Linked DNA regions of Homo sapiens. The protein of the gene in region 3 interacts with the protein of the main gene of each other region in a pairwise test. Each region holds a gene or a part of one and is shown on either strand. Other genes may lie near its edges. The genes, in order: TNMD, ERMP1, HHLA2 and SLC38A7.

Evidence for each region.
Region 1: the proteins of HHLA2 (region 3) and TNMD interact in binary tests that used the Homo sapiens proteins (3 or more experiments, as listed by UniProt).
Region 2: the proteins of HHLA2 (region 3) and ERMP1 interact in binary tests that used the Homo sapiens proteins (3 or more experiments, as listed by UniProt).
Region 4: the proteins of HHLA2 (region 3) and SLC38A7 interact in binary tests that used the Homo sapiens proteins (3 or more experiments, as listed by UniProt).

What each region holds. Positions count from the first base shown.
Region 1 is NC_000023.11:100,580,045-100,587,958, reverse strand, and holds the start of TNMD (tenomodulin), read right to left. Parts: upstream 3,024-7,914; 5' UTR 2,941-3,023; coding exon 2,893-2,940; intron 2,729-2,892; coding exon 2,597-2,728; intron 1-2,596. UniProt on the Homo sapiens protein: May be an angiogenesis inhibitor.
Region 2 is NC_000009.12:5,809,095-5,816,119, reverse strand, and holds part of ERMP1 (endoplasmic reticulum metallopeptidase 1), read left to right. Parts: intron 1-3,084; coding exon 3,085-3,231; intron 3,232-3,902; coding exon 3,903-3,995; intron 3,996-4,796; coding exon 4,797-5,009; intron 5,010-5,888; coding exon 5,889-6,109; intron 6,110-7,025. UniProt on the Homo sapiens protein: Within the ovary, required for the organization of somatic cells and oocytes into discrete follicular structures.
Region 3 is NC_000003.12:108,348,546-108,355,570, reverse strand, and holds part of HHLA2 (HERV-H LTR-associating protein 2 isoform a precursor), read right to left. Parts: intron 3,784-7,025; coding exon of another isoform or gene 3,758-3,783; coding exon 3,694-3,757; intron 2,145-3,693; coding exon 1,791-2,144; intron 457-1,790; coding exon 190-456; intron 1-189. UniProt on the Homo sapiens protein: Through interaction with TMIGD2, costimulates T-cells in the context of TCR-mediated activation. Enhances T-cell proliferation and cytokine production via an AKT-dependent signaling cascade.
Region 4 is NC_000016.10:58,674,760-58,681,784, reverse strand, and holds part of SLC38A7 (sodium-coupled neutral amino acid transporter 7), read left to right. Parts: intron 1-1,543; 5' UTR 1,544-1,658; coding exon 1,659-1,928; intron 1,929-2,890; coding exon 2,891-3,089; intron 3,090-3,310; coding exon 3,311-3,452; intron 3,453-4,360; coding exon 4,361-4,459; intron 4,460-5,438; coding exon 5,439-5,496; intron 5,497-5,663; coding exon of another isoform or gene 5,664-5,709; exon of another isoform or gene 5,710-5,730; coding exon 5,731-5,845; intron 5,846-6,061; coding exon of another isoform or gene 6,062-6,171; exon of another isoform or gene 6,172-6,251; intron 6,252-6,442; coding exon of another isoform or gene 6,443-6,471; exon of another isoform or gene 6,472-6,535; intron 6,536-7,025. UniProt on the Homo sapiens protein: Symporter that selectively cotransports sodium ions and amino acids, such as L-glutamine and L-asparagine from the lysosome into the cytoplasm and may participates in mTORC1 activation. The transport activity requires an acidic lysosomal lumen.

The DNA.
Region 1 (7,914 bases), on a different chromosome or scaffold from region 3:
ACCAAGGGCCACAGAGTCCCAACAAGTCTCATAGATTTGTTAAGGAAAGCCCAAAGAGCCTGGATTTTAATCTGCTGTTGTTTCTTGCTAGGCCATACCATTAAGGGGAGAGTCTTTAATTTATGTAAGATGCCTGTGTCCCTTTCCTATGCAACTCTTCCAAGACTAATCTGACTGCTAGTCTCTTCCCAGAATTCTTAAGTCTGCTCTAAGGCAGGCTTGTTGATAGGCGTACCCATTGGAAACATAGATGGTCTCTTGAGATCTTTGTCTGGGACCTGAAGGTAGTAGTGGACTAAGTAAAGCATCCTCATTTCCAGCTGATTTCTTAGTTTTCAATGAACCAAACCTGGTCTTATGAAGGCCATGACTTAAATATCAAAGACAATGAATCATAACTCCCCACTGGAATGGAAAACCAACAATATTTGTTCATGGTAGAGAAACTTGCCCTAGGGGACACCTGTTGTCTTTATCTGGATTACTTCATAATAGCTTTGTTCATTTCTGAGAGTCCCTTTGCTGAAAATGACATCCCAAAATGGATTACTTCACAAGAGGTTTGATTTTTGATAAACTTTATTCAGCAGCATATCCCACCTCTTCTGTGCATGCACTGACCAAGTTTTATTTTGGTTTGAGGTATCATAGGATTGCTCCTTATAATCATTAAAAACAGAACTAGAATGAGATGTAAAGATGATATAATAGGGAAAGAGAGGAGACCATGAAGCTGCAAGTGAGTTTGACACTTTGCAATAAAAAGGCAAGGTCTCCACCTAGTCGTTTATAGCTGCGTTGAGGCAAATAGCACTGTAAATTTATAAAAACACATATACTCTTTTGGAATAGCATTTGCAGTACCAATGACAACAATAAAACAAGAAAGGCCATTTGGCCCCTTATTTAGGCAAGCATCTAAGGGTGGTCAAAAGGACTAGCTATCCACCATGCCCAGTTAAGTACATTATGGCTGTGGAGAACAAAGGATTTATGGCCCTTTAACTCATGGATAATTTTCAAGAGGATCCAAGGTTCAACTTGTGGGGTGACATATCACCTTGGGAATTAGCTAAGTGGTACCAGAATTGTATTGGAATGCATTTTGGCTCTCTTATTAATTTGCTGTTTCCTTCCTGATCTCGATTGCTTTACCCACCCTGCCAGCCTGAACACAGGTGGCTTCTCTAGAAGGACATTTGAACGGTAAGTAGTTCAGAAGCAAGGAGCAGTAAGGGGAGGAGGAGTAGGGGATAGGGCTAACTATAGGCATTGGGTGATGCCTGAAATCTTTTCTGGAACAAAGTATAAATAAAAAGGCAAACAAAGTAGGCTGGCTTGCTCTCCCTCCTACTTAAACCTGATAAGATATCCTTTGGGACTAAATGAAAGTGGGTATGACAGCAGAGGTGGAGAACCCAAGGGTGGTTATGCTTTATACCTCTGTTATCTTTCAGACACTTAGCCAGCTTATTTTCTGCTTTTCCTGCTCTGCCTCTCTCTCCCCACTGACCCATATTTTTTTCTCTCTGCTCCTATTGCTCCTTTGGCTCCTAACGGTCCATGCCAACCCATTTTCTTGTATCATCCTCCTTCCTGGATTTGTGCTTTTTTCTCCCTACATCTGTTACCAAATAGAAATGAGCATCTTATGACAACCAATTAACAACAGTAATAACAATAACTTCAGCAGCAATCCACACACCAACAGAAAAACATGGCAAAGCCAGAAAACTATCTTCACAACTTGTAGTTTGTATATTTGTTGATTATCTTTCAAATGGAAATTGTGAGCATGAAGGGACTATGGTTTTATTTGGGACTATGGTTTTATTTATTTATTTTATATCTAAACTTGCCCATTGCCTATGAGCCCAGGAATAACAATAACACTAAGGTACAGAAATATAAACTACAGTGGCTAGCCAAGCTTCACCAAATGACCCCAGTATCAGAAGCTTTCTGAGTTATCTGTGATTAATGACTTGGTGTCGCATGCTTCTACCTTGTGGCATTGCTATCTCAGTGGGACAGTGATGATTGCAGCTGGCAAGGAGCTGAAAAGCTCTAGTTTCTTTTTAAAGTCATAAATAAATGTGAAGTCAGGTATGAGAATTGCTCCTCCTGAAAAGCAGCTTGCTGCCTGTTCTCACTGCAGATGCATTAAGTCAGAAACATAATCCCTGAAAATCCTTTGCTGCCACTTTGGGTGGTTTCTCCTTATGTGGTGGTCTAATTACTTTTCCATCAGTTTCTGCCCAGATAATTGAAAGAAAGATTAAAAGTATTTTTTCTTAAGGTAAAAACTTTGCTCCTAGGAGGAGTCTTAACTCCTTAAATATAAGCATTATAGAAGAATGGGTAATTCTACACCCTATCATTACTAACCAAAATATAGAAGATAAATTTTTTTCCCTTACCAAAATAATTAGGCAAATGAAGGAGAGAAAAATCTTGATTCAGTTTTTCATACCACCAGAAAATAAACACAAAAGAGACTTAATGATTTTCATTTTCAGAATAATTTATATGCCTACTAATTAAATTCAATCAAACTCAGAACAGAAGCATCAGATTATGATGTGTATTTACTTACTTTTTTGGGTACCTCCGGCCAGAAGTGCTTGCTCCCCCAAAACAGGACAATTAGAGTTAGGGCCAGGATACCAAACACCAGTCCACAAATCTTAAGTGATTTACATATTTTCTTGGATTTAAAAGCTTCTGCCTAACCAAAGAACAGAGAGAATAAAACAATACACAATAAATCTCAATAAGCAAGCCATAATTCAAAGTCACCTTTGATTCCACTTTCTAATGTTCACTTTGCAATATGATAAATCTGTGAAACCATGCTTCTGCTCAAAAGGGAAAAAATATGAATCAACTTACATTTAGAATGTGACAGTCTTCACAATTCTCTGGAGGATTCTTTGCCATGGTCTCTCAGCACACAGTACTCTTTCCTTGCTTTGAGAGGACTGAGAGACCACTGCTGAGGTGGAGTTGCAAGTGAGTCGGCTAACAGATGCCAGAGGAGAAGCTGAATTTATATGGCTCAAATATGTCATACCAGAGCCTGAGGGAGCCCAGGGGACTCCTGTGCTGCGATTTGTTACATAGATATACCCATATATGTATATAACTTCTGTGCACAGAATTCCATCCAGAATGGCAAAGACAGAAGGTTATAATGAAAACTATTGTCCTGGGGGTTGGGTTGGAAGGGGACCAAGCCTAGAACACATTGAAATGATTTTTCACTATGAACTTAAAATATCAGTGGCAATACATGCTGCACACTCCAGAAATAAGCAAACAAAACAAAGAAGGGAATGAAGTCCTAATTTCGATTCCATTTGGTTCAACAAATATTTATTGCAGGGATATTAAATGTCAGGCACTGTGCTTGGTGTTTGAGATTCAGAAATGAATAAGATATTGCCTCCTTCACTAAGTTAAAGCTCTTTAAATGGTGCTATCAATATGTACTTAACTAATTATAATGAAAACAGGATAAAATAAAGACTAATTCTAAGCTCTCTCTCTTCATCTTCTGTCTCTGATTTTTCTCCTTTCTTGGGTCCTCTTCCTCAGTCTGCTTTTTAATGTTCACATGCCTTATGGTTCTCTTCTTGATGATCATTCTCACTTTACACAGACTTCGTAGATGATATCATTCATTCCTACAGTTGAAAATATCACCTACATATCAGTGATTTCCACATCTGTACCTGTAACCCAGTTATATCTTTTAATTTCAAGGCCATTTGAACATCTCCACCTGGATATACCTCAGGAATCTCAAACTCAACATGTTCTATATCAAAGTCTTCTTTCAACACCTTCTCCTAACCTACTTTTTCCCCTCATATTCCCAACCTTAGTTGGTGGCTATATTAGTTTGCTAGGGCTGCCATAACAAAATACCACAGACTGAGTAGCTTAAATGGCAGAAATTTATATTCTTACTGCTCTGGAGGCTAGAAGTCCAAGATCAAGGTGTTATCAGGGTTGGCTTCTTCTGAGTCCTCTCTCCTTGGCTTGTAGATGACCATCTCCATATTCACATGACATTCTCCCTCTATGTATGCCTGTATCCTAATCTCCTTTCATTATAAGAACATCAGTTATATTGGATAAGGTCCCATTCATATGACTTCACTTAACCTTAATTACCTCTTTAAAAACCCTATCACCAAATACAGTCAAATATAGAAATACTGGGGGCTAGGGCATCAACATATGAATTTTGAGGGAACATAACTTAGCTTATAATAGTGGAATTGTCACGCACCCAGTCTTTCAAACCAAAATCTGAGGTTTGTCTTTCAAACCAAAAATGTGAGGTTTGTCTTTCAAACCAAAAATCTGAGGTTTTGTCTCTTTTTCACATTCCCTTTATCCAATCAATCACTAGATCCTATCTATTCCAATCAATCACTAGATCCTATCTATTCTAAATTTTTATATCTTTGAAAGCTGTTCTTTCCTATTGTGCTCACTGCTAACACCCCAGTTTAGTTTGTCATCCTTTTTGAGAACTTTCACATCCATATATTTTACCCAGGCTGTTCTCTTGGAGCTCCACATCCATATGTCCATCTAACCTGCTAGACATCTACAATACCCAACAGACACCTCAAATTCCATATATCCCGAACTGAATTAGTTATCTCTCCTTTCAAACATGCACTTTTTTTTTGGTATTACCTCTCTCACTAAATGACACAATAATCAGTCTCTAGAATAGAAACTTCCAGATGATCCTTGATTTCTTCCTGTCTTGTTCATCCCCATGGCTAATCAATTATTAAGTCCAGTTAATTCTGCCTCTGAATTAGCTCTGCAATCCTATTCTCTCCATTGTCAATCACCACTGTTTAAGTTGAGGTTCTCAGTCACTTTTACTATTGCAATAGAATTCTGTTTTCCTTGTCTCTCATACATTGTCTTCAAGGTGATCTTTCTAAGACTCAAATTTGAGGATAATCTCTCCCTTGCTTAAAATCCTTTAGTATCTATTCATTGTCTATAAAATCCAAGCCACTTATTGTGACATAGTAGGCATTTAATGATCTCGACTTTGTCCAACTCTCTAGTCTTGATTTTGGACAATTTTTTTCTACAGCGATGGAGCCAACTGGGAGGTCGCAGCTGGGCAGGAAAATGGGGCATGTACATATGACTACCTCCACATCCTAATGTCTCAAGGAAAATAATTTTCTAATTGTTGGATACATGATTGTGCATTAAACTGATTACATAAATTATGAAATATGTCACGATTCTATATGTTCTACAATTCTTTGGTCAAGCTTAAAGAGAGAAAAAAGAAAAGCCACAAGAGCAGTCTCATGGAGAAACTTATGTTTATTGGGTCAGATGGTTCCCCTCAGTGATGTTATTCACACTATGCCTCTGATGCCTGCCTCACACTGTACACCCTATTAATGAACATGCCCTACTTCTTCACACTGTAGGACATTTGCCCATGCTATATTCATTGCCTGGAGTTTTCTGCCTTCCCTTGTTTACCTGGAAAATTCCCATTTGGCTTTCAAAATGCTGCCTAGATGTTATCACCCCCTGAAAGCCTTTCCTGGTCTCATCTCTTCCACTTCGTTAAGTTAATTACCCTTTCCCTTGCTCTACTTTTGTATCTTGCTCATACTTCAACCGTTATACTTTGTATGCTGTATTATAATTCTTTTTTATGTGTTCCTCTCCTGAATAGACTTTGAGATCTTTTAAAACATGCCTTTCTTGTTAAAAGGATTGAATTAAACCAAGAGTCAAAGCAATATTCCATGGAAACATAGAGGGAAGAGTGATTAATTCTGATTCAGAAAAGCAGGAAAAATGGCACAAAGGACATGGCATTTCAATAGACTGTTCATTGATTAGCATGTATTTATTCAGTGTCCCCTATGTGGCAGGCATTGTTATAGGAGCTAGATATATATTCAGTAGTAGACAAGCAAACACAGTTCCTCCTTTATAGAGCTCAGAGTCTTGTTGGGTAGACAGACATTAAACTAAAAGGAAAAAAATCCTGTAAATAAAAGTACATAAATGATGATATATGCTAAGAAGGAAAAGTGCAGGTGCTTTAAAGCACCTAATTTGGATTGGGTGGGATGGGTGAGGGAAATCCATGCTGAGGAGTTGTCACTTAAGCTAAGACCTGAATAATGAGTAGAAGTTAGCTGGTAATGAGTGGGGAAAAGATTATTCCAGGCCAAAGGAACAGCACATGGAAATATCCTGAAGCAAAAAAGGGGTTGAATTATTTAGAGAATAAAAGGAAAGTCAGTGTAGCTGTGATGTAGTGAATGAGGAGGAGAGTTACTTGAGATAAGGCTGAAGAGGTAGGCAGGAGACATATTCAGAGTTGCATCTGCTAGGACTGTTTTTTGCTGTATGTAATAGAAACCAAGTTATGGCAGTTTAACCAAATGAAGGGTTTATTTTTCTCACATAATGGGAGTCACAAAGTCAGCAGTCCAGGGCTAGTTCAAGTACAAGGACCCAAGCTTCCATCTTTCTGTTCTGTGATCTTTTGAGCATGGCCTCCATCATCATGCTTCCAAGATGGCTGCTCCACCTCTAGGCAGGATAAAGGGGGGATAGCAAAGGGCAAAAGAACATGTGGCAGCTAAATTTGTCCCTTTCCATTAAGAAAGTAATAGTGTTCCTGGAAGCCCTGTCCTGTAGATTTTTGCTTATCTTATTGGCCAGAACTGGGTTGGATGACCACTCCTACTTATAGTGGGGTCTGGGGAGGTTTTATTTTCAACTGAGCCTGTTACCACTCTTAATAATATCTTTTTATGTATATATAGAAGGGGGAAACATATTGAGTAGGCAACTTATAATTTCTGCCACAAAGGTCATGGTAAATGTTTGAAGTTTATTTATTTAAAATTAGAAATAGGGTCTTGCTATTTTGCCCAGGCTGGACTTGGCCCAGACTCAAGTGATCCTCCTACTTCAGCCTATCAAGTTGCTGGCATTACAGGCATGTGCCCGTGTACTCAACTGAAGTTATTCTACAAACAATGGGAATTAATTGAAAAGTTCTAAGTAGAATTCCTTTTATGTTTATTAAAATCTCTCTGGCTGCTGTGAGAAGAATGAATTGTAAGGGGGCAAGAGTTTTAAAAGGTTGACCAGTTAGGAGGTAACTGAAAGAGATTATAGTGGCTTGGACTAGGAAGTGGTAGCAGAGATGGAAATAAGTAAACAGATCTGGGACATATTTTAGGTAAAGCATATACTTGGTGATAGATTGAATATATAGAGAATGAGAGAAAGGGAAGAACAAAAAATAACATAGATTCTGGTTTGTGCCTTTGGGTGGACAGTGGCACCATTCACTGGGATTAGGAAGCACTGAGGAGGACCAGTCTGGGGTAAGTGATGAGCATAGTTTTGGACATGTTAAACTTGAACAGTCTATGAAGTATCCAACAGGAGTTGTCTAGTTGGCAGCTGGGCAAATGTGTCTGGAGCTTGGAAAACAGGTGCTTGAATGGAAATATAGATATGGGGGCCATTTGCCTTTGGATGGCATTCAAACCTATGGGAGTCTATGATATGGTCTAGGAAGAGAGTTCAGGACAAAAGGAGAAAAGAGCTCAAGACTGAGCCCCAGGGAATCTTCACAGTTATTTATTTTGAGACATGCTTTCACAATGGCTTTCATTTTATAAAAAAGATACACACTCATTATAAAAATAATGGAGAAATATAAAAATACAAAAAAGAGAAAAAATCCCTTCAAATCTGCACCAACCAAGAATAGCCATTATTGTGCCTCAATTTTCTTATCTGAAAAACAGGAGGATACAAACAGTACCTATAGGTTGTTGTGATAACTTAATGAGGTAATCCATTTAAAGTGCTTATTTT
Region 2 (7,025 bases), on a different chromosome or scaffold from region 3:
TGGATTGCCTTGCCTGCCTAGGCATTTTTTTTAACCTCTCTTCTCAAATACAACTCCCTCCCATCTAAGAGGAACTATTATCCTAAGTTTTAAGATAATTAATGATAGTTTGGCTTTACCTGTTTTTCAGTATGGTTTTCATTGTATTTTTTAGCATAAATTTCTTAATATCAAATAGTAATATTTTAATAATAGTATTTTAATATGATAAGATCTCGTAATGTACGTATTTCCCCATCATCATAGTTCTTTTTCCTTTTGTATTTGTGTCCTCAGTGCATCACATCAGGATGCATGTGGTATCTGTTTGTCTCATTATTAATGATACTACATTTTCATCGTTTGATTAAGGTATTTATTTGCCAGGTTTTTCTACTATTTCTTTCTTTGTACAAGTTACTGATTTCCCCTTAGTGATAGATACTTTAGGTAAATATCCTGTTTGTCATAAAACTTTGATCCTAGTTTTAGCAATCATTGATGACTCTTGTCCCCAAGCATTTTTATTACAATGTTTACCAAATGCTACTGCTGAGTTTCTGGTTCCATCATTCTGCCTGTAGGTCATAGTTGGAATTCTGCAAGAAGGAAGGCTTTCCATTTTCCTTTTTTTTTTTTTTTTTTTGTTATTTCAGTACTTTATGTATTTTAATTTTACTCTATATATTCTGTTACTATTGTTTATTTTGTTGCATGAATTGTCCCAGTTTAGGCCAGTGGTGTCTATTTCAAATCAGTGCCTGAGCCCCTTTGACATGTCTTTTTGATCACTTTCTTACTTTCTGGCACAGATGTTTCAACTTACCTTGTACTTTGCTAGTCCCAGACCTGGAATCAGCCATTTCTCTAAGGAGGCTTGGTTTCTTTTGGTGGGGAATAGTATTCAAAAGTAAATGGTGCCAGATACAGTTTTTCTTTATATTTATCTTGTTTGGGGTTTGTAGACCTTTTTGAATTCGTGGCTTGAATTCTATGAGTTTTGGAAGATTCTTGGCCATTAAGTCTTTAAACATTTATCTTCTCCATTCTATCTTCTGTTCTTTTGGGACTCCAATTACTCACATTTGTGTATTTTCCAACCTTTTTTTCTTTTTATGCTTTAATTTTAATCCTTTCTTCTGCTGTATTAAACTTTGTGTTAAGCCCATTTATTAAAATTCGCAACATCAGTTATGTTTTTTCATTCTAGGATTTCCATTTGTAGGACTCTTTTAAATAGATTATACTTGTCTGGTGAAATTACTGATATCTGTGTTTTTTAAAACATATTAATCATAATTATTTTAGAATCTGTGTCTGGTAACTCCAGTATCTGGATTACTTGTATGTCTGTTTCTATAGGGTCCCTCTGCTTTTTTGGGTCATTTTTAATTTTTAATTTTTATTTTTTCAGATGGAGTCTCACTCTGTCACCCAGGCTGGAGTGCAGTGGCACAATCTTGGCTCAGTGCAGCCTTCACCTCACAGGTCTAAGCAATTCTCCTGCCTCAGCCTCCTGAGCAGCTGGGATTACCATGCCCTGCTTATTTTTGTATTTTTAGTAGAGGTGGGGTTTTGCCATGTTGGCCAGGCTGGTCTTAAATGCCTGACCTCAGGTGCTCTGCCCACCTCGGCCTCCTAAAGTGCTGGGATTATATGCGTGAGCCACTGCACCCAGCCTTGGTCATTTTTTAAAATGTAGGAAAGCAATTTTATAATCTGTGAAGTTAAAAAAACAATATTCTTAGATTCCCTGACATTCAGTTACTTGGTCTGTTTACATCAGTCAATATGTTGCTAAGTTTTGTGGTAACAACCCCAAAATCTTGGTGGTTTACAACAGCAAAGGCTTATTTCTTGCTCGTGTTGCATTTTGGTTTCTGAATAACTGCAGTTATGGTCCACGGTTATTATGTTCCATGTGTCTTATTCATTCTGGGATCCAGGCTGAAGGAGAAGCCCCTATAAGGGATGTATTGATCTCACAAATCAAAGTTAAGGATAAGTATGAATGATGTTAATGCCTTTGAAAACTCTGCCCAGTTGAGGGTCATGTCATTCCTCCTCACAGTCTGTTGGCTAGAGCAAGTCATGTAGCCACGCCTGCAGTTAATAGGTACAGAAGAGTATGTACTCATTCCCCAGGCAGGCATTACAAGGTATGTGGCAAGAGTAGGAATGTATAATCCTTTTTCAGCGAGGGAAGAGTGAATAATTATACAATTATACATATAATTATATAATTATAATTATATAAATATACGTATAATTATATAATTATATAAATTATAAAACAATGTATCCCACTATCCTACAGGAAAAACTCCCATTTGAAAAAGCTGTAGATGTATGAGATACAGATGGAAAATTATTAATAATGATAAATTATAAAAAGTAACAAGGAACTTTATGGCATATTCAGTGAAATGTTAAGCAGTTATCAAAATGATTATTATAATACAGATTGAGCATCCCTAATCTGAAAATTTGAAATCCATAATGCTCCACAATTCACAACTTTTTGAGCACTGACATGATGCTCAAAAATGTTCATTGGAGCATTTCTGATTTTGGATTTTAGGATTAGGGATGCTTACTAGTATAATGCAGATATTCCAAAATCCGAAAAAGTAAAAAATCCAAAATACTTCTGATCCCAAGCATTTCAGATAAGGTATACCCAATTTGTATCTAGCAACATAGGAAAATGCATTTAATATAATGTTAAGTGAAAACAAATGTACAAAGTATATATATCTTGAGTACAGCTATATACACACAATTCTACATTAGTAAGAAAATTAAAGATATACAATTGATAATAGGCATTTTAGGATGATAGATTTATGAATGATCTTTCATTTTCAGACAGACTTTTGTATTGCTGTTATTTTATACTTTATTTTCACAAAAGGTTTTTATTCTAAAAGTCAAACACATATATCAGAGAAACATTGGAAACTACAGAAAAAGGGATGAAAAGGTACATATTGGACCCGTCTCCCAAAACCACCACTTTTACTGTTTTCTATGTGTTGAAAAACATTAGTATGTTAAAAAAAATTGCCGGAATACCTTCTATTGTGTTGTCATCTTTCATTTTAGGTCCTGAAAATCCTTGGTTGGTTCAAGCTTATGTTTCAGCAGCTAAACACCCTTTTGCTTCTGTGGTGGCTCAGGAGGTTTTTCAGAGTGGAATCATTCCTTCAGATACTGACTTTCGTATCTACAGGGATTTTGGGAACATTCCAGGTATATTGTCAATGGTTACGGCCTACTGTGCAGCATTTATTTATCAAAAGCAAATTTTAAATCTTGAAAGTATGTGAGTAAACAGCATTTTCTGAGATCAAATTCTTTATGTGAGAAATATACATTGACTCACTAAAACAGAGTTTGTTTCCTTTTTTAAACTCCATACTAATTTAAATGCTGGCCTCCTCTAAAATATGTCATCTTTCCCCATAGAAGAACAGGGGTGAACTGTTTAGCACCTCATTCCCAAAAGATGGTAATAGATCCTTCAGGGGTCTTTCGTTGTTGTCTTGGTTTGCCAACTCCCTTGGCAACTTGTATGTACAACTTATTTGAAGTTAAAATTTGGCTCTGGCCTGGCAAGAATGTAGGTGGCAAAATTTTCATGACCTCCCAAACTCAATATTCCTATCCTTGCTGTGTGACTTGTAATGCCTACCTGTGGAGTAATATACTTCTTCAATCATTATGTATCGAATTATGTACCAAAGCTATAGACTGTGTAAGAATTTGGAAGAGAATTTATATCAGTCGTTTGTAAATGTGACAAAGCAATCGTGCCACTGCTTTGACATTTTGTCTTTTAGGAATTTATTAAAGAAATAGGTCGAAAGCAAGGTTGATCTTTAAAGCAAAATGACTTTTTTTTTTCTATATATATGTTTTAGGAATAGACTTAGCTTTTATTGAGAATGGATACATTTATCACACCAAGTATGACACAGCGGACAGAATTCTAACAGATTCCATTCAGAGAGCAGGTTGGTATTCCAATTTAGACTTTTGATATACACTAAGATGGAATGTTAGGGATGATACATAAACTTGTAAATATTCTGTGGCCTGTGCATTAGAGAGGCAGTATGCAATGTGAATGAGCTAGGGCTTTGGAGTTGGAGAGATGAGATCTTGAATTTTAGTCTTGTAGTCTAGTGTAGCAATTAAGGTCAGGAATATTCATTGTGAGGAAATGAAAAAGGAGTTGGCCCAGGGTTGGGAGGATTGCTGAGTGGTAAGAATGTAGCTCTGTTAGTCTCCCATGATGTTTTCCTGTGGAACTCTGCTAGCTCTCCTCAATTTTTAACACATGTGTGACAGCTTGTTCAGCATCTCTGAGCTTCGTGAAAGGCCTTTGTCTCTTGGTTCACCACTAAATTTCTGATATCTAGAAGAGTGTCTAGTACAGTTAATATATATTATTAAATGAATGGGTACCAAGAAACAGCCATTGGATTTGTCAACAATGAAGGTACAATTGATCACAGAGAATAGTTCTAATAGAAGGGAAAAGATACAGGCCAGTTGGCTGAGCGTCTGAGTGGAGAGGAAATGGAGAAAGGCAGGGGATGGACCTTATTTGAGAAATTTAGTAAAAAAAGTGAGGGAGAGCAGTAGGATGGTAGAAAGCGATTTCTGTTCACATTCTTTCTAACCATTTCTTCATTCAAACAGTATATGGTTTATTTCTGCTTTAAATAGTGGTATGTGTAAATCACAAATAGTTTATTCAGCCTTTTTATCTTTTTCCTTTTCTTTCTTTTTTTTTTTGTTTTTACTAATAGGTGACAACATTTTAGCAGTTCTTAAGCATCTAGCTACATCTGATATGCTGGCTGCTGCTTCTAAGTATCGACATGGAAACATGGTCTTCTTTGATGTGCTGGGCCTGTTTGTCATTGCCTACCCCTCTCGTATTGGCTCAATCATAAACTACATGGTGGTAATGGGTGTTGTTTTGTACCTGGGCAAAAAATTTTTGCAGCCCAAACATAAGAGTAAGTATTTTCCTCTAAAACTACAAATACTGGCATTGCTGTAGAATGTGCTTGAAGTTTTTCAGTCAGTTTGTTTATATCTTCCCAGAAAGCTAAAAATCTTAAGACAATGTTTGCTTTATATTGTAAGAAATTTTTAAATATTAAATTAATATGCTTATTTTACTTTTAGTCTTGGTGAAGCAGTCAATTTTTATATATTTAGGCACTCCATAAAAGTACCACATAGAAACTATTGAAAAATGGTTTGTACAGATTGACTTCTAATGAAAAGTCCCATTAAAAAGTCCACACTACAGACCAATAGCTAGTATGGACCAGTGTCACGAAGTATGAATGAACTGCTTGTGGTTAAACTGTTTCTTTTATTTGAAATATTTCTGCTTGAAATGTTTCAGAGTCTAAGTTGTTGTGTGCTGTTACGAGATAAAATATTTAGCAGCAGTTTAAATAATTCTTTATCAACGCTTATTTTCCCCACACTCCTTATCTTCTTATGTTACCTTATTTTAACAACATTTTATATGGAACTTTGCCTTCCATTCTTGCTAATATTTTGATACACAAAGCATACCAAAAGTGAAGAAGATTAAGACTATCCTCTTCCTTCATAAGGAATGTACCTGAACTATTCCTAGAAGATTTATCTTTTTGAGTGTTTAGTATCTAGAGACTCTTAATAAATGTTACCTGAATATTATTATTTGATACCTCCCTTGTTCTTGTGTTTGGCCAATCTCAACACTAGGACATTTTCATACTTTTCAAGTACAGTGGGGAGTTTTTTGTTTTAATGTTTGCCCATTTAGCTCTACTGACTGGTTATATAACTGATTTGATGAAGATGGTGATTTCAACTTTTTGTTTTCTCTTCATTAGCTGGTAACTACAAGAAGGACTTCTTGTGTGGACTTGGCATCACTTTGATCAGCTGGTTCACTAGCCTTGTTACCGTTCTCATTATAGCAGTGTTCATCTCTCTTATTGGACAGTCTCTCTCATGGTATAACCACTTCTATGTCTCCGTTTGTCTGTATGGAACTGCAACTGTAGCCAAAATAATACTTATACATACTCTTGCGAAAAGATTTTATTACATGGTAAGTGTTTGGTATATTTGTTGATTTCTTTCTGTTGCCTCCAGGGACTGAAGATGAACTTAAGTGTGATTCATTGTATTTGGCCTTTTGAGTGCTAAAAAATTGTTCAGCATGGTTATGGAAAACGCACCTACACTGTGTTAATTTTCTGAAAGATTTCTTATTCTGAGGGTAATGTCACAAAATTCAAATGAGGTTATAAAGCCGGGCTGTTAACAGTGTTAGGGTGGTGGTGACTGGAAGGCTTGTTAGCACAGCCTTCTACTGAATTTGCTGCAGTGTTTGTAAATATGTCCTGGGCTCACCCACTTATTTATGTTATTTGAATATCTGTTCTCCATTGGAGTGTAAGCTCCTTGAGGATAGGGATTGTTTTATTTATTTCTGTATCCTCTGTGCTTAGGTAGTGTCTGACACACAGCATTAACACACAGCAAGTATTTGTTGCCTAAAAGAATGTTGTACTTAAAGTTTTTTCAGTTTTTCCCTCACTGTTTTTTCTTTTTAACTGTATATTGTTGATTCAGATTCTGCATGCATGTATGTCATTGGAGTTAAAAGACACATTGCTAAGGAAAACAGAGGGAAGGGAAATAGGGTTCCAAATGATTTATACTGAGAATATTGTTATATTATTATGGTTTCAAATGCATAAATTTGTTTGGCAAAAATAAAATTAGAAATTAGGGCTGGCCGGGCGCGGTGGCTCACGCCTGTAATCCCAGCACTTTGGGAGGCTGAGGTGGGCGGATCACAAGGTCAGGAGATCGAGACCATCCTGGCTAACACGGTGAAACCCCGTCTCTACTAAAAATACAAAAAATTAGCCGGGCGAGGTGGCGGCGCCTGTAGTCCCAGCTGCTCGGGAGGCTGAGGCAGGAGAATGGCGTGAACCCGGGAGGCGGAGCCTGCAGTG
Region 3 (7,025 bases):
AGTAAGAATGATTGCTTAATGTAATACAGCCAGAAGAACCAGCCCTAGGGCTTCGGTCTTGGTCTTCTAACCGCTGCAGATGGATTTGCTTTCTTTTCTTTCATCTTCCTTTCTTTTTTTGCAAATCAGTCCCCATTACCCCCCAACTTTGAAACAGCACGTGTACACAGAAAGTCCTGTGGAGCCTACCTTTCATCGTCCAGCGCCCTGTCCATGTTTGCTTCAGCAGTGAATTTTCAATTGTACATTCATAAGATGAATTTGATCCTGTAATATTCAGTGGGCTGTTAATAGAAAAAGAATCCAAAGACCCTGTTTCTTCCATGTTGTTTTCAGAGATAGGTGTGTTGTCCATTTTCCACGTGATAATTGGACGAGGATAAACACTTAACACGCTGCATATTAAGAAGCTGTTTGTGTTCCTCTTTTCATACTTCATCACGGGTGTGAGAAAAACTACATAGGAGAAAGAAGGGCGCATGAAAAACTGCCATCATTAGCTTCTTTATAGGCCGTCTGTGCAGAATACTTTTTAATATCCATGAAATGAAAAGCTAAATTTTATGAGCAAAACTTGGCAGTTACTGAAAGGGAAAACAAACCAACAAACACACACCTCTGTAGAACCTTAAGATATAGTGTGGTTATCTAGAAGAAATAAAAAAAGAGCAGGCATGGGTATGTGGCAACTAGCAATCTCAATTTTCTAGAAACATAGCTGGAAAAGAAATCTAATGGCCTCATTGAAAAACCAAAATGAGGATGTCTAAGTCTATAAAGTAGAGTTCATGCGGCACTCTACACTCCTCAAATACTGACTCAGAGCACCTATTTGACTGTTTACACATAATTTTGTGATTTCTGAATCAAGGTCTGAAGCAGCTAAAAGGGACAGAAGAAAAAGAAACAAGTGCTGGGAAAAACAACCCATTAGAAAATACTGCATGTATGTGTGTGTGTGTATATATATCTATATGTAAGATTGTTCTATATATTATAATGCATACTAACTATATTGCATATAAATGATCAGCAGCCTGATCATTAACAGAGCACATCATCAGGAACTCTTGGTAATCCGGTAATTAGGAGCCATGAAGCTCTTTGAATTTCTTCAGTTTTAATCTAATACCTGTTTGGTTCAATGTAACTATGAGAATTAGCAACAGTTAATATATTAATACAGTTAATATATTATATAGTTATATTAACTGTATAATATAACCACCATGAAGCTCTGTCTGAGTGATATTAACTGTATATAACTGTATGTATTAACTATATTAATGGCTTATAGTTATATAGGTATAGTGTTATATATAGCTAATACAGAGAAGGAAAGCATATAATATAAAATTAACCTCATTTATAATATAGAAAAATGCAATTTAAATCAGCAATTCAATATTTTTTCAGTCATGATATTGGCAGTTATTTGGTACTGATAAGACTAAGGGGAAAGTGGATAGTCTTATGCTGCTAGTATCAGTAACCCATTTAAATCTTCTGGTACTTTGCTTTCAGATTATTTCCCAGTATTAAGTACAATTATAAGGATGTTCATCACAACCATGTAATGTAAAACACTGGAAATGCCTGAATACCCACCAACAGGGGAACAGTTGTATCATTTATAACATTAGTATACTACAAGTTGCTGTGCGTTAAAAATAAGTAGATTTCCATGTATTGACTTGGAAGGAAGCTCATGGCATATTAGGAAAAAGACGCTTACTAATAACATGGAATGATGTCATTGCTGTTTCATGAAACTTTACATGCACACTTACCTCCCACCTTTAGCACCACTTTGTTTGTAATCACTTGAATTGCTGTTCCTACATAGCAGGTGTAAATTCCTTCGTCCAGAAGGCTTACTCTTCTGAAAAATAGCGACGCATTCCCATTTTGAATCTCATTATAGAAAAGGGATGTCCTGTTTGCATATCTGGGATCTTGGCTTTCCAAATGGTCACTGCCTTTGTAGTAACTGTGAACCTTATAGCTATCTTGATACTTCCAGTGTATTACGACTTCGGATCCCCTCTCAAATGAAGAAGGGAGAATTATATCTTCATCAAGTCTTCCAATGACGATTTGTTCATTCATAGGAACATAAATGAAGAAAGCCAAAGGGAATATGCCTACAGTCAAGAGCAGAGAAGTTATAAAGAGAATTAATGCCATGTGCTTGTTCAGGATTATACCAGAACTACCCAGAAGAACTATCCTAGGTTAGCAGCCTGATTATTAGTAGACCACATAATCAAAAACACTTGTCTGATTATTAGAAACAAACCTGTGAAGCTCTGTGTTTGAGTTTTAATTTTAATTGAATATCTGTTTTATGCAATGTAACTGGGAGAACTGGTAACAGCCCAAGGCATAGAAACACTGGTTTGCTGCCCACTTGATCAATAATCTTATCTCTCTTCCAATCCTGGCCTGGAAATCATGTATGTTAAAAGACTCCATTGGATTTCATTCCCAGAACACATTCACATTTAACTCCTACTATAGCAACAATAAATTAGTTTATCCAGCTAGCAACAGCCAGCAGGCCCTAAAAGAATGGAATAAACTCAGCTTGACTGGGTAAGAAAATATTTGGAGCACATAGAAGACAATGCTGGGTTCAGGAATCTGATATCTGTACACTAGATCTAAATAGGGAAGGACATGAGCAGGAGGAGTCCAAAAGGGAAAGAGAGTCATTCATTTGCTTTGAGTTTAAGACTGCTCTCAGGATATCCTGAGTTGGTCAAAATGTAGGTAAGGAATATCTGGAGATAAATCTGGAAGCCTAATCCCCAATTCTCTTGATTTACTTATTTTGTTTTGTTTTCTTTTCACTGTCAACTTCACAAGTTAATTTCAAAAAGCAAATGAAATCAACAGAATAAGAGATTTTTGCAAAGAAAATATACCCAGACACTTCCTATCATTGAAGGAGGTAATCTAACTGCTTTGATTTACAAAATATTTTAAGTAGATCTTGTGCCCTGTCTATGGATTCTAAGATATTAGCACTGGAAAGGACCTTATTTTTTGGACAATGGAGTAACTCCTTTGGCTCATGGCCCAGGCCACCCAAGATGGAAGAACTGCGTGCCCAAGTGGCTCTGTCACAGTCTTTATCCTCTACCTTCCCTTCTGGGGCTCTTTCTACCCTACCATGTCCCGCCTCTCTTCCTCAGAGAGACTTAATCTCTCTGCAGAGAGCTAGAGGGATGTGGCATCATGCTGAAAGAAAGACACAGAAAGATGGGAAAGGAAAAGAGTGACTGTCGATCTCTCTAATTGCTCTGCTAAACCCCTCTAATGTTTCACTGGATAATTAAGAATGCCTGTCATAGGACCTAGCAAAGCTGATAATGCCTTCTGTCAAGTGGTAAGTACCAAGCTTACACTTAAAAAAAAAAAAATCAATCAATCAAACTTGCCTTTCCAGTGAACTTACTTCTGGTAGCAGACAACAGATTAGAAAGAGTCTTAATCAGAGTGGACAGAAAAAATATATATAATTTTTAGTCTTCATGCAGACTTCCAGCCTGTTCCTTGCTTCTGATTAACTGATGATTTAGGAAAGTTCACGATGCTGTGGCTATGGAGGAAATAGCCACCTTGCATTGTGTGCTCATGTTTCTATCTGATAATGCAAATAACTAACACTTGTATTACAAACGAAATTACCTTGAGATCCACTCAGAGATGTTATGAGAATGAGGAAGAAAGACAGTGCTGTCTGTGCCTTCATGTCTTGTGCAGAACATATTAGTCATGCTATCAAAGAGAAGTAAAGTGCACATGTTATGGATTTAAAATGCAAAAGGGAATTGGAAAAGAGTGGTACATTCATACAAATAATTGTTTTGTGGCCATTAAATATAATATTGTAAAGGATGGTTCAATGGCATGGAAGGAATTTCTTAATAGGTTATCGGAGAAAAATTAGATTACAATACAATTTCTAAATAGCATGGTTCCTTTTTTAAAACATACACATTTCTGATCATAGGATACTGACAAGATATATGACTAAGTATATGAGGATGTTAATTCTGAAGAGCAGGTTTCATATCTGAAGCAGTGACTGCTATTAACAGGTGCTGAAACATGGCTCTTGAATGAATAAAGATTTAGTATATCTGCAACAGTGGTTCTCTGGATAATAATTTGTTATTTTTAAAGCTTTCTACATGGACACATTTGCTTTTATGATAGAAAATACTAAAACCAATTTAAATTCAATATTAAGTGCCAGTGGTGTAAACTATGATGTTATTTATAATCACACATAAAGAACAACTAAAACCTGAAAATATATTTTTACATATCCAATACTAGTGCAAGCCATTAAATTCATGGGTTACAAAGCATGTTTCAAAAACTCAAAAAAGTGAGAAAATATAGATGGCAAAACGTGTATACACAAAAATACAGTTTCAAGCAAGTACAATGTAACTGATTTTCCCAGATGATAGGATTAAAGTTAATTTTTACACTGTAAGAAATAGCTTGTTTAAAGAATAGCATACAATTGGTTTTAAAATCTCTAAAAGAAAGTTTTAAAGGTATCATTTGGTGGCTGGGCATGGTGGTTCACACCTGTAATACCAGCACTTTGGGAGGCCAAGGCAAGAGGATCACTTGAGGTCAGGAGTTCAAGACCAGCCTAGCCAACATGGTGAAACCTTGTCTCTACTAAAAATACAAAAATTAGCCGGGTGTGGTGGCATGTGCCTGTAGTCCCAGCTACTCAAGAGGCTGAGACAGGCAAATTGCTTGAACCAGGGAGGTGGAGGTTGCAGTGAGGCGAGATTGTACCACTGCACTCCAGCCTGGGCAAGACAGTGAGACTCTGTCTCAAAAAAGTAACAATAAAATAAAATAAATAAAAAAGATACCATTTAGGAGCTCTACTATTACAAGAATATATTCTATATTTGTTGTGAGGTATGTGATTTAAGAATGACTTGAAACTATTTTAAGAAGTGAAATTAATCATGCAATATACCCATGTAACAAGCCTGCACATGTAACTCCTGTTAAAATAACAATTTTTTTAAAAAAGTAAAATTAGATTCCTTCATCACATCTTATCAAAATAAAACCTGGTAGATTAATAATTTAGAGTTTCATTTTTACATTTTAAAGACTATAAGAAAGTTATTGAAAACACGACCTTAGGAAGAAGGCCTTTTAACAAAACTGTACATTTTCTATTATCTCTATAAAAATGGAAAAAGCAACAAAATATAGAAATACTTTTGCAATATGACAAAGTTATGAGTCCAATTGCTTTTATTTCTCTTAGAGCAATAACTAAGATAGTTGGTAAAGTCAAAACTGCTCCAAAATAGTATTAGTTATCAAAATTGAGACCTTTATATTTCTTCCTATGGAAGTATTTGCATGTATAATATATAAAAGGATATCACAATGATTATTTTGGAAGAGTAAGATTACAAGTAATCATTAAACTCATTTTTCTACTATGAAAATATGTAAACATGTAATAATACCTTTTGCCTCTATATGCCATTAAAAAAAACCTTGAAATTTAATTACTGTCTCTTTCCAAGCAAAAATTAACTCAAATTCACCTTGTTTAACGTAACCCTGAAACATTCCATGTCCATTGTCTTGCTAGAGGTTCATCTTCCCATTGCCTAGAATGACTCCAATATTTGCTACCTTCTCTTGAAACTGACATTCCCTGTTCTCATCTCTTTTCCAGCTGATGCTCTTACTTCATAATTGTTGTAACTGATTATGGCTACTCCCTCATCCTCCTATCACTGACTCAACCAACCCATTAACATCTAGGTGCACTCTTTTTGTCTCTCCTTCTGCTCTTATCCAAGGCCAAACCCTTCACTGTACTCTGCATCTCACACCTTTCTGTATTCAAGAAATTTGTCCCATAAAATGAGTTAGGGAGGATTCCCTCTTTTTCTATTGTTTGGAATCATTTCAGAAGGAATGGTACCAGCTCCTCTTTGTACCTCTGGTAGAATTTGGCTGTGAATCCATCTGGTCCTGGACTTTTTTTGGTTGGTAGGCTATTAATTACTGCCTCAATTTCAGAACTTGTTATTGGTCTATTCAGGGATTTGACTTCTTCCTGGCTTAGACTTGGGAGGGTGTATGTGTCCAGGAATTTATCCATTTCTTCTAGATTTTCTAGTTTATTTGCGTAGAGGTGTTTATAGTATTATCTGATGGTAGTTTGTATTTCTGTGGGATCAGTGCTGATACCCTCTTTATCATTTTTTATTGTGTCTATTTGATTCTTCTCTCTTTTCTTCTTTATTAGTCTGGCTAGTGGTCTATCTATTTTGTTGATTTTTTTTTTTAAAAAAAACAGCTCTTGGATTCATTGATTTTTTGAAGGGTTTTTTGTTCCTCTACCTCCTTCAGTTCTTCTCTGATCTTAGTTATTTCATGTCTTCTGCTAGCTTTTGAATTTGTTTGCTGTTGCTTCTCTAGTTCTTTTAATTTTGACTTGGAACCAACCCAAATGTCCATCAATGATAGACTGTATAAAGAAAATGTGGCACATATACACCATGGAATACTATGCGGCCATAAAAAAGGATGAGTTCATGTCCTTTGCAGGGACATGGATGAAGCTGGAAACCATCATTCTCAGGAAACTATCACAAGATCAGAAAACCAAACGCTGCATGTTCTCACTCATAAGTGGGAGTGGAACATGGACACAGGGAGGGGAACATCACACACCGGGGCCTGTCAGGGGGTGGGGGGCTAGGGGAGGGATAACATTAGGATAAATACCTAATGTAGGTGACGGGTTGATGGGTGCAGCAAACCACCAGGGCACCTGTATACCTATGTAACAAAACTGCATGTTCTGCACATGTAACCCAGAATTTAAAGTATAATTAAAAAAAAAAAAGAAATTTGTCCCTGCAATCATATTTCCTTTCTACTACATCATCAGGATCTCTCTCTCTCTCCTGAATCAATTCTATAGGCATAAAAGCTCCAATCACCCATCT
Region 4 (7,025 bases), on a different chromosome or scaffold from region 3:
CATCTGCAGAAATAACAGCAGCAGTGACCATTTATTGAGTCTTAAACCCTTACTGATATTAACACACGACCCACAGGAACATATGATGTAAAGGCCTAAAGGGGCGAAGTGACTTGCCCAGGGTCACACAGATAGGCAGCGGAGGAGTCAGCATTCTGACGGCAGAACCTACTCGGAGACCCAGATCACAGCCCTGCCCAGGGCTGCTCTTGATCTGGGGGTGGACTTGATGCTTTAGGACCATCATTTCTCTGCGGGTCTCAGGCTATGAGCTGAACCTTGAGAACACTGAAGATCCTTTTTCAGGGCTGGGCTCCTCAGAGCCTCTCGAGATTCTTGGAAGAAAAAAAACTGCATCTCAATTGTGTTTATCCAGAGAGCAAAGAGAATCAGTCAGGTGATAAGCCTGTTATCTGAGTTCTGCCATACCCAAGGTACCATCTTGGACCCAGGAGTGGGGCAGATACAAACAGATGGATGCCCTATGGTCAGACAGGCCTGGGTTTGAATCCCAGCTCCACCACTGACCGCCATATGACTGAGGGGAGAGTGGTTATCCCCTCTGGGATTCAGCTTCCTCTTTGGTAAAATGGTGACTGTCATGTCTACCTTTTAGGGCTGCATTGAGGATTGAATGAGAAAGCATTCCATAGCTGCAGCAATAGTGGTTTATAGTGACAAACAGCACTGCATGTTTGGCACTGATCATTGTAATCTAGCCCAGGAAAGCAAGCCTAGTGGCCAGTGAGATGCTAGCACATGAGAGAGTACTGAGAAGAAACCAGCTAGAGTGGTTCTGGGCCCCTACATGGCTCCAAGAAGAGCTCAGTGAGTGACCCAGGAAATGGGGAAGAAATAGGACCTAAAAGGGTGGCGGCAAAGGAGTTGGGAGCATTAGAAGCATGGGATGAATCACTGTTTTCCTGAAGACGCAAACATGACAGGCATGGGGGCTTGTCACATGAGAGAAGAGTCGAGAATTGGCCTGAATTTCGAAGGGCCTCGAAAGCCACAGAATTCAGACTCCAGGCCACCGGGAGGCGTGCTGGACTGTAATATGTTGAATCTCAGTTCTTGGTAAGGGGTCCTTTTGGGACCCTGTGGGGTGGAAACAGGCTGGGAAGCCAGACAGATCTGGATCCAAATCCTGCTATGCAACTTGCTAATATATGACCCTGGGTCAGTGATGGGATCTCTCCGAACCTTTTGACCACAAGACCATCCTAAGGATTGAATGAGATAAAGTATATCCATGACACACCTGCCCGATGCGGGGCCTCTATCGAGTGCTGATGTGTTAGTACCCATTTTATGTTGACATCTAACTGGTCCATTGAGTCTGTATGCCTGAAGCAAGCATGATTTGCACCTGATCTGTTTCTGTGTCTGTCTCCCCATACTCTGGCACCCAGTGCACTGTCTGCACAGAGGCATACCTGGGTTTGGACCCTACCCATGTGATCTTGGGAAAGTTATTACACCTTTTTGTCCCCTAGTTCCCCCATCTTAGGATAACAGTAGTGCCTGCCTTTGTCCCATCTAGGTTGAGAAGAGTCCTAAGCTAACAGCCCCAAACAGGTGGGTGTTGCTCAGCTCCCTGAGGCATGTGGTTGTAAGGCAGAACCCACAGACCTTGCAGGAAGAAGGCTCTCGGGGCCATGGCCCAGGTCAGCATCAACAATGACTACAGCGAGTGGGACTTGAGCACGGATGCCGGGGAGCGGGCTCGGCTGCTGCAGAGTCCCTGTGTGGACACAGCCCCCAAGAGTGAGTGGGAAGCCTCTCCTGGGGGTCTGGACAGAGGCACCACTTCCACACTTGGGGCCATCTTCATCGTCGTCAACGCGTGCCTGGGTGCAGGGTTACTCAACTTCCCAGCAGCCTTCAGCACTGCGGGGGGCGTGGCAGCAGGCATCGCACTGCAGATGGTGAGTGCACTGGCCGGGAGGGCAGAGGTGCAGTTCAGTTGGGCGCTTTGCCTCAAAAGGGAGGCTTCGGGTCAGGGATGGCCAGTAAGTGATACACGCACTGCTCTCCCCTCCCTCACACATGGCAGACATGACTAATCTATTCTAGTATTCTTTCCTGTGACCCAAATGAGGCTTCAGAAGCCTTCCAACAATCAGAGAAATTTGAACATCAATTACATCTCTAATTTTTTAGGTGTAACATTGATTTTGTGGTATGTTTAAAAAGAGGGCCCTTATCTTTTAGAACTACATACTGAAATATTTATTGATGAAATGATATGATAGCTTATATTGGCTTCACAATAAATGCAGAGTGGGAGGGAAGGGGAATGATGAAACAAGTTGGCCATGCATTGATCATTTTTGAAGCTGAGTGATGGATACATGCCAGTTCTTTTTACTATTCTCTTTACTTTTTTCTTTGAGATGGAGTCTTGCTTTGTCACCCAGGCTGGAGTGCAGTGGCCCGATCTCGGCTTACTGCAGCCTCTGCCTCCCAGTTTCAAGTGATTCTCCTGCCTCAGCCTCCCAAGTCGCTGGCATTACAGGCACCCACCACCATGCCCAGCTAATTTTTGTATTTTTAGTAGAGACGGGGTTTTACCATGTTGGCCAGGCTGGTCTCAAACTCCTGACTTCAAGTGATCCTCCTGCCTCAGCCTCCCAAAGTGCTGGGATTACAGGCATGAGCCATCGCATCCAGCCTATTCTCTTTACTTTTGTATGTTGGCAATTTTTCAAAAAACTTTTTGTTTTTAAAGAAAATCTCAACTCGGCATCCTCTAGCAGTCTCTTAAAATTGCCTTTGTGAGATTTGCCAAGCTTGCTTTGGGCACTGGCCCAGTAAATGCTAGGCGAGCCCAGGGTGCCCTCTGCTGCCAGGCCTTTGCCACAAGCTCTTGTTCTGCCTCTGCCTGCAGGGTATGCTGGTTTTCATCATCAGTGGCCTTGTCATCCTGGCCTACTGCTCCCAGGCCAGCAATGAGAGGACCTACCAGGAGGTGGTATGGGCTGTGTGTGGCAAGCTGACAGGTGTGCTATGTGAGGTGGCCATCGCTGTCTACACCTTTGGCACCTGCATTGCCTTCCTAATCATCATTGGCGACCAGCAGGACAAGAGTGAGCTTCTCCCTCAGTCCCTACCCCATCTCTTCTTATCAGCCCCAGGGATCCTGGGGTGGAGGGAAAAGGCACTGAACACCTCTCCAGGACTTACCTGGGCCCAGCATTCATCTGGGAATCCTCCCTCCAGGCAGAGGGAGGTCCTGGGGCCCAGCAGAGCAGGAGGGCCACACCCCATGGTGGCCTGGCTTGACATTCCCTCCTTCCTCCCTGTGCAGTTATAGCTGTGATGGCGAAAGAGCCGGAGGGGGCCAGCGGCCCTTGGTACACAGACCGCAAGTTCACCATCAGCCTCACTGCCTTCCTCTTCATCCTGCCCCTCTCCATCCCCAGGGAGATTGGTTTCCAGAAATATGCCAGGTTTGGAGGCCCCAGCCTGGGTCAGACAGAAGCTATGATCCTGGGCAGCTGTAGACCCAAGGGCTCCTGGGGAACCCTGCTCCTCCATGCCACCTCACCTTGGGGAGCAAGAGTAGGCAAGGCAGGGCAGACCGGGGCTTGCAGGGTTTCAGATAAGACCATCCTTTTCTGTCTCCATCATAGAAAAAGGATGCATCCATGAGAGATTCAGTTCTAAATGTCCTTTTGCATCCATGAGTAGTTCAGTTCTAAGTGCCCTTGTCAAAGAAGGAACAGGTGGTATCTGGGCGGTGAAGGCAGCCTCCTGGCATTCCCTGGGAGGAATTTGGGTCTTTGAGACTGTCAGCCTACCAGCATCTTACCTGCAGCTTGGCATGAAGGAAGGAGACTGGTTTCCTGTCTCGGTGTCTGAAAGGCTGTGGGATTCTAGGCTTCCCCGTCTGTAAGTGCAGGGGCCATGCTCCGCTCTCTCCAAGGCTCCCATAAATGTTGACACAAAAGTGTCTGTACTCTCAACCCTCTTACCTCTGGCATCTCTTAGTTCTCAAAGGCCAGGCTCAGAGGATGGTCTCCCACAGCCCCTGCCCGGGCTGGGCTGCTCTGATTCAAGTCCCAGGTGTGCTTTGGAGCTCTGCTCTCTGCATCGTCTCTGAGCCATGGAGCTGAACCAGCACTTCCTGATGGCCAGGAATGCTGATCAGGTCCCCTGTTGGCTGTCCAGCTCCTTCCTAGCTGTGGCAGGTTTCTCTGAAACTACTTCTCAGGCGTTTCCTGAGTCTGCTTGGCATAGTCTCCGGTTCATTCAGTGGACACTTGTGGTCGCTAGAGCTGAAGGTGGATGTCCCTAGGGGTGGAATCAGATAAGAGGCAGCTGGGGATGAGGACACTTAGTCTCTCCTTCCCGGCAGCTTCCTGAGCGTCGTGGGTACCTGGTACGTCACAGCCATCGTTATCATCAAGTACATCTGGCCAGATAAAGAGATGACCCCAGGGAACATCCTGACCAGGTGAGGGTGAGGGCCCTAGGAGACATGGGGAAGAAGCCACCACTTGGGCCCCAGCAGGTGCTGGGTCAGGAACCAGAAGGCCACACAGGTGCTCTTCTCAAGGCTCATGAGCTCATCAGGGCTGACTTGGTCATTGTAGGAAGGAGGAAAGAGCCCCTGCTCTGATGTTACTGGAAGGAAGAGCAAGAATCAGAGACAGGAGGCACTTTGCCACCTACATCCAACAGATGAGCCAGTGTGAGGCTAGGCCTTGGGTTGTGGAGGAACCTGAGGGTGGAATCCCAGGGTCGAATTGCCTGTGTTTCCAGCATCTGCTTATCTGTAATTTCTGTATCTTTGAGGGTGAATTTATTATTAAAAAAAAAGGGGGGGGGCCAGGCACAATGGCTCACGCCTGTAATCCCAGCACATTGGGAGGCCGAGGCGGGCGGATCATGAGGTCAGGAGATTGAGACCATCCTGGCTAACACGGTGAAACCCCGTCTCTACTTAAAAAATACAAAAAAATTAGCCGGGTGTGGTGGCAGGCGCCTGTAGTAGCAGCTACTCGGGAGGCTGAGGCAGGAGAATGGCGTGAACCTGGGAGGCAGAAGTTGCAGTGAGCCGAGATCGCGCCACTGCACTCCAGCCTGGGTGACAGAGCAAGACTCCATCTCAAAAAAATACAAAACAAAACAAAACAAAAAAAACAATTTCCTTCTTTTGAAAGGAACAAACCAGTAAAGCAAAAGCCCCAGTCCAGGAGCCAGGAATTCTGGATTTTGGCCCCAGGGGGGCTTTTCTGAACCTCCAGGCCCCATCCCAGAGGGCCCTGGGACATAAGGATGCCTCTTCTCCCTGTTCCCAGACTTCTGTGGGTTGAAGCTATGGAATCCCAGTTGCTGGAGACCATGGTGGGCTGACCGAAGAGTGAGGGCGTGGGGTGGGTTGTGGCTCTGAGGGGTTCCCAGGTGGCAGCACCATGTGTGTTTGTTCACAGGCCGGCTTCCTGGATGGCTGTGTTCAATGCCATGCCCACCATCTGCTTCGGATTTCAGGTGCCAGTGCCAGTTGCAAGGTCCCTGCTGTCCCCTTAGATCACCCCACCCTGGGATGGAACCCAGCAAGGAGGAGGAACCCAGGCAGAATGGAGGAAATCCTGGGGGGAAGGATGGAACAGGGGCCTCAGGACTTGCCCCTTGTTCCTGGGGTCTTTGTTCCCAAGGTACCTTCCTCTGGAAACTGGGGTTGAGGTCATTTCCCCACCATGACGGTGCCCTTCACCTGGACAGTGCCACGTCAGCAGTGTGCCCGTCTTCAACAGCATGCAGCAGCCTGAAGTGAAGACCTGGGGTGGAGTGGTGACAGCTGCCATGGTCATAGCCCTCGCTGTCTACATGGGGACAGGTGAGTGCTCCCCCCCCCCAAGACCTGGGACTAGAGTGCTCTCACTTCCACAGGAGTCCCTAGGTCCTGGGGCCTAGCTTTCCTGGGGACAGCCCTGCATTCCCAGCATGACTTGTATAGGCATTGGCTTGAACTTGGCCTGCCTGGAGCCTCCTCCTGCCAAGATGAGAGTGGTGTATTCATCCATTCATTCACCAGTTCTAACTTGGTGCCTAGGAAGTGCCAGGAACGGTTCTCAGCATGGGGGATGCCATGGAGAGAGACAGAACTGGTCTTGCCCTCATGGAGTTGACATTCTTGTTGGAGAGACAGTCATGCAGGAGTAACTGGGGAATCAGTAAGGAATTCCAGATGGTGGCAAGCATCCTGATGACAGTGAAATAGGGAAGGTGTGTTTTGTTTTATTCTATTTTATTTTGTTTTGAGAAAGGGTCTCAGAAACTGTCGCCCAGGCTGGAGTGCAGTGGCATGATGATAGCTCACTGCAACCTCAACCTGCTGAGGTCGAGTGATCCTCCTGCCTCAGCCTCCAGAGTAGCTGGGACTACAGCCATGTGCCATTGTGCCCAGCTAATTTTTTTTTTTTTTTTTTTCTAGCAGAGACAAGGTCTCACTATGTTGCCTAGCCTGGTCTTGAATTCCTGGGCTCAAGCAATTCTCCTGCCTCGGCCTCCCAAAGTGCTGGGGTTACAGGCATGAGCCACCAACCCAGCCTAAAATGGGGAAGGTATGAATGGGACTGGATGGGTGGCTTTGGGAGTGGTTCACAGAAGGTTCTTCTCAGAGAAGGCCCAAATGATGAGAAAGAGCCAGAAGAGGAGGAGCTGGGGAAGAAGGGTTCCAGGCAGAGGAACCACAAAACACCAAATCACTGAGGCAGGGCCAGGAAGAAAGTCTATGTGGCTGGAGTGGTGTGTGATGGGGGCAGGTGAAGGCAGTGAGGCCAGACAGGCACTGGCAGCCAGATCCTGTTGGGCCTCGAGGGCTGCTGGGAGTCATCGAGGAAGTGTTTTAAGCAGGGGGGTGGTTCGGGGAAAGGTGGCTCTGGCTGCCGTGTGGAGAGTGGTTGGGGTGAGGGAGCAAGTCTAGGAGACCCTGGAAGAAGGATCCCCTGAGTTCTTTCCACGGATAGACCGTAGGAGCTGCCTGGGCCAATACTGTTCTAGCCTCTGAATACACA